2 linked regions of the Homo sapiens genome follow. The protein of the gene in region 2 purifies or fractionates together with the protein of the main gene of each other region. This does not show direct contact. Each region holds a gene or a part of one and is shown on either strand. Other genes may lie near its edges. The genes, in order: EIF2A and PRUNE2.

Region 1 (3,829 bases), on a different chromosome or scaffold from region 2:
TTACAAGGCTCTCTCCAAAACTATAAAGAATATGTATGATCAAGTACCTGTAATGGATTATGCTACAAGAATAAGAATCCTACAGATATTAATTTATAATCAGATCAATTCAGCTCTGCAACAAAGTACCACAAAACTTTTTTCCCCTTAAAGGGATGCCATAATGCTTCCAATATGATCAGACCTCTGATAACTTTTCTTGTCCCTCCTCACTGATTCTGAATCACTTTTATTTCCGCTAAGGTGCTGTATACTCTTGCCCCTGGCCTTTGTGTACAGCAGTCTCCCTTAACCATGGTTTCAGTAACCAAGCGTCAACTGCAGCCCAAAAATATTACATGGAAAATCCCAGAAATAAACAATTCATAAGTTTTAAGCTGTGTGATGAAATCTCTCAGCATCCTGCCTAGAACGAGAATCATTCTTTTATCCAGTGTATCCACAGTGTATTCGCTCCCCACCTATTTTTCACTAGTAGCTGTGTTGGTTATCAGATCGACTGTCACAGTATCAACAGTAGTTGTGTTTAAGTAACCCTTATTTTACTTAATAATGGTCCCAAAGTGCAGAGTAGTGATGCTGGCAATTCGGATATGCCAAAGAGAAGCCGTAAAGTGCTCCCTTTAAGTGAAAAGGTGAAAGTTCTTAATAAGGAATAAAAAATATTGTATGCTGATTTGCTATGATTTACAGTAAGATTAAACCTATCCATGAACTTGGGAAGAAGAAAAAAGAGATTAGTGCTAGTTTTGCAGTTGCGCCTTGAACTGCAAGTTATAGCCGTGGTCATTCAACTTACCACACAAGCATTGTACCATCTCACATTGTCGCAAAAAGGGTGAATACAACACCATTAGATATTTTGAGAGACCATATTCACATATCTTTTATTACAGTATATTATTATAATTGCTCTATTTTCTTATGAGTTACTGTTAATCTCTTACTGTGTATCACAGTCTCTATAGGGTTCGGTACTATCTGTGGTTTCAGGCATAGCTCTGCCCCTCCAGGATAAAGGGAGACTACTATATATTGTTCCTTGTGCCTAGAACACCTTCCCCCACAAGTCACCTGGCTGAACCCTACTTATCCTTTAAGTCTTCTGGAAAATCTCCCCACCTTAAGACTGGATAGTCGCACCTTTCCCAGGCTCTCATAATGCCCAGTATTTTTCCCTACGGTAACACCATATTCTACCATTCCCCATTAGAACTGAGCCTCTAGCATAATACTTGCTTCGTTGCACAGGCTAAATAAATAAAAAATAAAGGAATGACTCTTCCTTTATAATTATGACAAGATATATATTTTGGTAAGAGGGGAAAAAATTATGTAAGTATTTATTGGCTCCAACGTAGGGTTTCTACTTCTTATAGAATTTCCAGTGGAATATATATATAATGCTCCAGGTCTCCATAACCTTTTACTCAGAGTTCTGGGTAGGATACTCTGAACTTTTAAAGCATCCTCAGATCCTCAGGGAACATAGAATAGGGTATCACTTCTAGATATTCAACTCTAAAAGTCTGCCTAAGAGTTTTTAGAAAATACAGAATTGAAGTCAATTTTTCTCTTTTTTTTTTTTTTTGGAGACAGAGTCTAGGCTGGAGTGCAGTGGCACGATTCCAGCTCATTGCAACCTCCACCTCCCGGGTTCAAGCGATTTTCCTGCCTCAGCCTCCCAAGTAGATGGGATTACAGTTACAGGCACCTGCTACCACACCCAGCTAATTTTGTATTTTTAGTAGAGATGGGGTTTCACCATGTTAGACAGGCTGATCTCGAACTCCAGACCTCAGGTGATCCACCCACCTCGGCCTCCCAAAGTGCTGGGATTACAGGTGTGAGCCACTGCATCCAGCCAATTTTTCTTTTTAAAGTCATGTTGGTTTCACTTTTTGGTACTATTTAATAAACAATTATTTACCTTCTACATGAAAACAAATTACTGGGCACTTTGAGAATTCGAAAGAAAATATTAAGTTTCTCCTCTTAAGGAGCCTGTAAGTTCTGGTAATAGGCAGTTTTATATTTTTCACAATATAAAATTAAAGTAGAAGAGTAAATAAAAGAAGAGGGGATATTCTGCCTATCAAAATTCACTTTTGATATCAGATTTTAAAAATATAAAATTTTAGTTGTTTGTAATGAGCTAAGAATATAGCTCTCTAGGAAGAAAGGTTAATCTTATCATGTGAAAAACCATTAAAATTAAGTGATATATAAAATTTATTTTTCCCCACAAACTAACCAAGAACAAGTTGAAATGTCTGCATTATTATACTTAAATTCTAGCCATTCTCTAGAAAGGACGTATATATGGTAAGATTAAATTCTTATGTTTCAACTCTTTTTTGGTAAAGTCAACAAACTTATAAAATTATCACCAGTTTACAAAAATACTAGTTAGATTACATATATCTGACTGCTCTATCTTTGACTATTTACTTCAGAGTCAGGACTAAGAAGGTCTGGATAAGGTGAGATTCTGTCAAGGGCCATTTAGCTTTGTTCCATCACACAGCCACAACTTTTACTAACTTCAGCCAGTCGTCCCCAAAATACATACTGAATAGTTTATCTTGCAAGTTGAAAACCTTTGCTATTACTGGAAAAACAACTCAAAAAGCAATTCCACAATGAGGGATTACTGGTATCACCTTTGGTATCATCTTTAGTAAAAAACGTGTGTAGGTGCTTGATGACTGTATTGGCTCTTTTAAAAAAAACTGACAGGTATAAACATATAACTGAGAGTTGTAAATTTATAACTGATCAGCCCAGCTGATCACACTATTACCATGAGCTATAAAGAGTTACACATTTATAACAGAGTTACAAATAACTATTATTTATAATAATAATTTCATTATATTAATTAAATGTGAAATTATCACATAATTTATATTATAAAATGTATAAACTAATAGAATTTGTATATTATTTATATAATTAATACAATTATAATTTAGTATATTAATTAATGGTTATAATTATTAATAATTATAATCATATGTAATTATGTAAGTAATTATTTATATAATAAGTATAAAGGAATCTTAGTCCAGTATCACCAATGGTCATATTAAAAATATCTTTTGATAAAGTGGAAGAAACTTTGCTTATAAAAATAGAATTCTAAGTTGAGTGCGTTTCAGAGAGGCCCTAAAACTCAAAGGGCATCTTAGTTATCAAGTTGTTAAGGATACTACTAATGAGTTGTAATATCCAGGGCCAGTAGAGGTCCCTACTTGTACTGATGAAGGGACAAGACTTGCTTTTATACAAATCTAATATCAAATGCATGGAATAGATCATTTTTACTTGGAATAACCTAAAGCTGACCAATTAAGATACTTCTGGGGATGAAACATATTAACTACAAATGAACAGAATGGTTTTTCTAAAAGTCCAGATTTTAGCAGAATATGGTTGCATAATACAATTCTATACCTTAAAATAGTAACTGCCTCCCAAAACACATAACCAGCCTAGACCTGTCAAAATTCAAGAATTATCAGCAAGACTATACTGATATAGCAACCAGCTGTTAAAAATCTGCCCTTTCTAGGATGGGCACAGTGGCTCACGCCTGTAATCCAAGCACTTTGGGAGGCTGAGGTGGAAAGACTGCTTGAGCTCAGGAGTTTGCGACTAGCCTGGGCAACATGGCAAAACTCGGTCTCAAAAAAAAAAACCAAGCCAAAACCAAACCAAAAAAACCTACTCCCATTTCCTGCTTGAAAAACATAGCGATAACCTATCTTTACAAAAATAAAAAAATTAGTTGGGAATGGTGGTGTACATGTACAGTCCTAGTTACTTG
Region 2 (3,829 bases):
CTCTTACTCTTCTGTGATTGGCTGACTGGACCAGAGGCTTCCTCTAGTGCCAAAGATTCTAGAGGCTTCATTTCTTCCAGAATCTGCAGCTGGGGACCCTCACCCAAGCCGAGTTCAGAGAACGGCTCCACAGTCTTGCCAGACCACCCAGGCCCTGAGTCCCTGGCATCCAGTGATGGATCACCAACCTCACTATGGCCCAAGAACATCCAACTCTGGTCTTGTGCAGGGCTTTCAAAAGATGATCTCGTATCGCTTTTAGAAGACATTTTCTCTGCAGAGAGACCTTTTCTTTCATTTAAGGAGGCTGGCTGACATGTGTCTGGGAAGCTTGCTAACTGAGTTCCCTGCAGCCCTGTTTCTTTGGAACCTACATACAATTCTAATTCAGCTATGCTTTCTCTTTCTTCACAGGTCTCTGGCTTTGAGTGTGAATTTTCTTCACGGTTTACAAGTATGTAATCCATGTGTAGTGCATGACGATCTTCATTCTTCTCTGTACATCTTTCTTCCTTGTATTCTGATTTTATCTGCTCAGGCTCTTTGGTAGGAATTGTTTTTTCTTCTTCCAATTCTGATATTTCCTTGCTGGCACCTAGAAGTGGAAGTTGAAAGTGAGAAGAGGAGAAAAAGGTTTAATTAACACATTGTGTGATTTGTGATCCTTGCAAATGATCATCTAAAAGAGGTAATTTAATATTTTTTATATATTTTATTTATTTATTCATTCATTCATTTGAGACAGAGTCCCGCTCTGTCACCCAGGATAGAGTGCAATGGTGTGATCTCGGCTCACTGCAACCTCCACCTCCTGGTTTCAAGCTATTCTTCTGCCTCAGCCTCCCGAGTAGCTGGGACTACAGGCACCTGCCCCCACGCCCAGCTAATTTTTGTATTTTTAGTAGACATGGGGTTTCACCATGCTGCCCAGGCTGGTCTCGAACACCTGACATCAGGTGATCCCCCCTCCTTGGCCTCCCAAAGTGCTGAGATTACAGGCGTGAGCCACCGCGCCCAGCTAGAAAATATTTTTATTTTGTAGAGTCATTCGATTTTCTCGTGCACTATCAGGAATAGGTATTACATATGCACTAGATTTTACTGCTGTTATAATACAGGACTTAGTGAGGCATGCCTTGAAAATGTAGTTAGTTTTCTCTCTACCCTCATTGGTAGGAAGAGTGTGTCTTACAAATATGCACTAGTTTAATCAACGCAGCAGTTTCTTGGAAGTGGAAGAATGGAATGTTTCTTACCATTTGGTGGTCCTATGTCTCCACCTGCTGGTAAATCAGAATTATCTGTTTCTACTTCCCAGTCAACGTTTGATGGAGACAAAATGTTGGAGCCTGCTCCTACCGGCAAATAAACGGACTCAGGGTCTTCACGAATATGCAGCACAGCCAGCTGGGATCCAGGCAGTCTGTTTTTGGTCTCAGCCTGGTTTCCCTCACTTCTTCGATCAGGAAGTGCAGAAAGCACTATCTCTGCTGCTCTGCATCCCAGAGATTCATCCTCTGGAGACCCAGCTTCCTCTATTGTTTCAGCACTCTGGGCAGGTTCTGTGAGATAAGACAAATCAAAGGGAGGTGTGTACGGTGCCAGCGACTGCTTCAGAGAATCTTCCTCCAAAGGAGGGTCACCACCATACAGGAAGTGTTCAGGCTCTCTCAGTAAATCTTCATCGATATTCTGGCCCATTACATCATATTCAAAATCACCCCACGAGGCTTCAGATGAGCAGATATCTTGCTTCCCTAGGTCCCCATCAACTGGCGTTTCCGGATGGCCTTCGGATAATGTCAGTTTACTCATGTCATCTATTGTTCCCGTGGATGTGTTGAGACCTGAGGCATCGCTGAAACTGTGGTCAAAGGCAGCTTCGCTTATATCCAGACAAGTGTCTGAGGCTAGCAAAGCATCAGGAACCAAGGCAGGATTCTCTGTGGATAAATGTGGATCACCATCAAACAAAGCTCTTGCACCAGGCTGACTTTCAGGAGAAAAGCTGTCTGATATCCAAGAACCGTCACCTTCTGGAGTTGGCTCTTGGTGAGTTACAAAAATGCTAGTTGCCACATTTTCAATCCTTGGGATTCTTCTGTCAACTGGTTCCAAAATTGGTGCCATATCTGGGCTGGCTCCTTTTTCTGATACTTGTAAACCTGTACTGTTGTCACCGTTTATTTCAGAAGGTTCAGGTGAACCTTTATGAGAGGCGGGCTGAGAGGAGCCCTTTATGTCTGCTTGATAGCCAATTGGAGGCAGCACAGTTGCGTTTTCAGAATCGAGTTCTGCATTGGATGGGACAAACTCCCGTCCAGGCTCATAAATGGGTTCTTCATCTATCTCTGGCTCAGTGAGACAAAGCTCACTGGATTCCACTTCAGGTCCCATGCAAGCACTGAGGTGCTTCTCAGTCTCTTGCTTTGCTTCAGAATCGTGACATATATCAGGGCTGTCGGAAGCCTGAGAATTGCTGTCATGTTCGCAGTGCGTCAGGATATCAGGATTCTCACCATCTGCTTTCAAACTGAAGGGCTTCTTAGCATCTATCCACAAGTCAGGCGCGGCAGAGGCCAGCTGCCCACCCTCTTGAAAGTTGCCATGTAAAATATCTGGCACAAAGGTACCTCGGGAGTCCTCACTTGGGGTAGAGCCATCCCATTCAGAGCCTGGCTTCATTATCAGTTGGGTGGGAGAACTGACAGCAGGAAAATTTTCTGTGGCAATGCTTGAATTTGTCATCTCACCTAGGTATGATTTTTCTTGTTCCCACTGATTTGTTTCTTGACCTTCATTAGTTGAAACATTAGATGTAACACAACTATTTTCCTCTGCGTGAGTAAAGGCTGTGTCCGGATGATCACAGACTGGCAGCATGGTGTCCTGACACTGCTCTTGGGTAGGTGTTTCAGGAGTCAGCTCATCACCAGCAGCAGACACAAAGGTTTGCTCTCTTGAGTCCTTTTCTTTAATTTGGTCTAATTTTACAAGCTGGCTGAACTTGTCAGCATCTGGGTCTGGCTGCCTTGGTTGAATGTTCCAGAGTTGCTCATGGGAGTTCTTCCCATTACCTTCCAGAAAGGGTGACTGATGGTTGTCACTAAAAGGATTAGTATAGTGTGTTTCCACGGGCTCAATATCACCCTGAACTGGTACTCCCCAGGGACTGGCATTTTGGTGTACTGAAGAATTTATCTCCAACACACCACTGGAGTCAGACAGCTCCCTTTCAAATGGACTTTCAATTAGTCTCCCTTCCTGGGGTGAGGCCTTCCACCACTCAGTGCTATCAGCTGAGAAGCCCAGCATTTCCAGTTGAGAATTATCTTCGTTCTTTGGGAACGAAGCTTTGGGAGATATTTGCCATGCAACATCTCCTGTTGTCCCTGTTTCTGGAGAAGATCTCTTCTCCTTCTCCACTGCTGTAATCTGCATTTCAGTCTCCGTTAATGGTGAGAAAGTCCAGGGATCAGGGCTGCTTTGTTGATTGTCACAGAATGGGTTTGACTTATTCTCATTCTCTGCTGGCTCTGAGCTGTCTAGGTAGTCATAAATATTTTCAGACTTAGGATCAGCTGTGACCAAGAACTTATTAGATTCATTCAATGAATCCCAAGCTCTGGATTCATCCTCAGCAACGTGGCAGTTGGCCACCTGGATCTCTTCCTCTATTGACTCTTCACCACCGACACTGTCATCATCAGAACCTGAGCTTGTTGAAATGACCCTGGCATCCTCTGGCTGCACAGTTGCAGAAATGTCATGTTCATTTTTCTCCTGGTAGCTAGCAATTAGATTGCTTTCCTGATGTGTCCCTGAATGT

Evidence for each region.
Region 1: the proteins of PRUNE2 (region 2) and EIF2A fractionate together in Homo sapiens (co-fractionation; one large-scale study listed by BioGRID). This does not show direct contact.

Annotation. Positions count from the first base shown.
Region 1 is NC_000003.12:150,577,465-150,581,293, reverse strand, and holds part of EIF2A (eukaryotic translation initiation factor 2A), read right to left. Parts: intron 1-3,829. UniProt on the Homo sapiens protein: Functions in the early steps of protein synthesis of a small number of specific mRNAs. Acts by directing the binding of methionyl-tRNAi to 40S ribosomal subunits.
Region 2 is NC_000009.12:76,703,505-76,707,333, forward strand, and holds part of PRUNE2 (protein prune homolog 2), read right to left. Parts: coding exon 1,257-3,829; intron 596-1,256; coding exon 1-595. UniProt on the Homo sapiens protein: May play an important role in regulating differentiation, survival and aggressiveness of the tumor cells.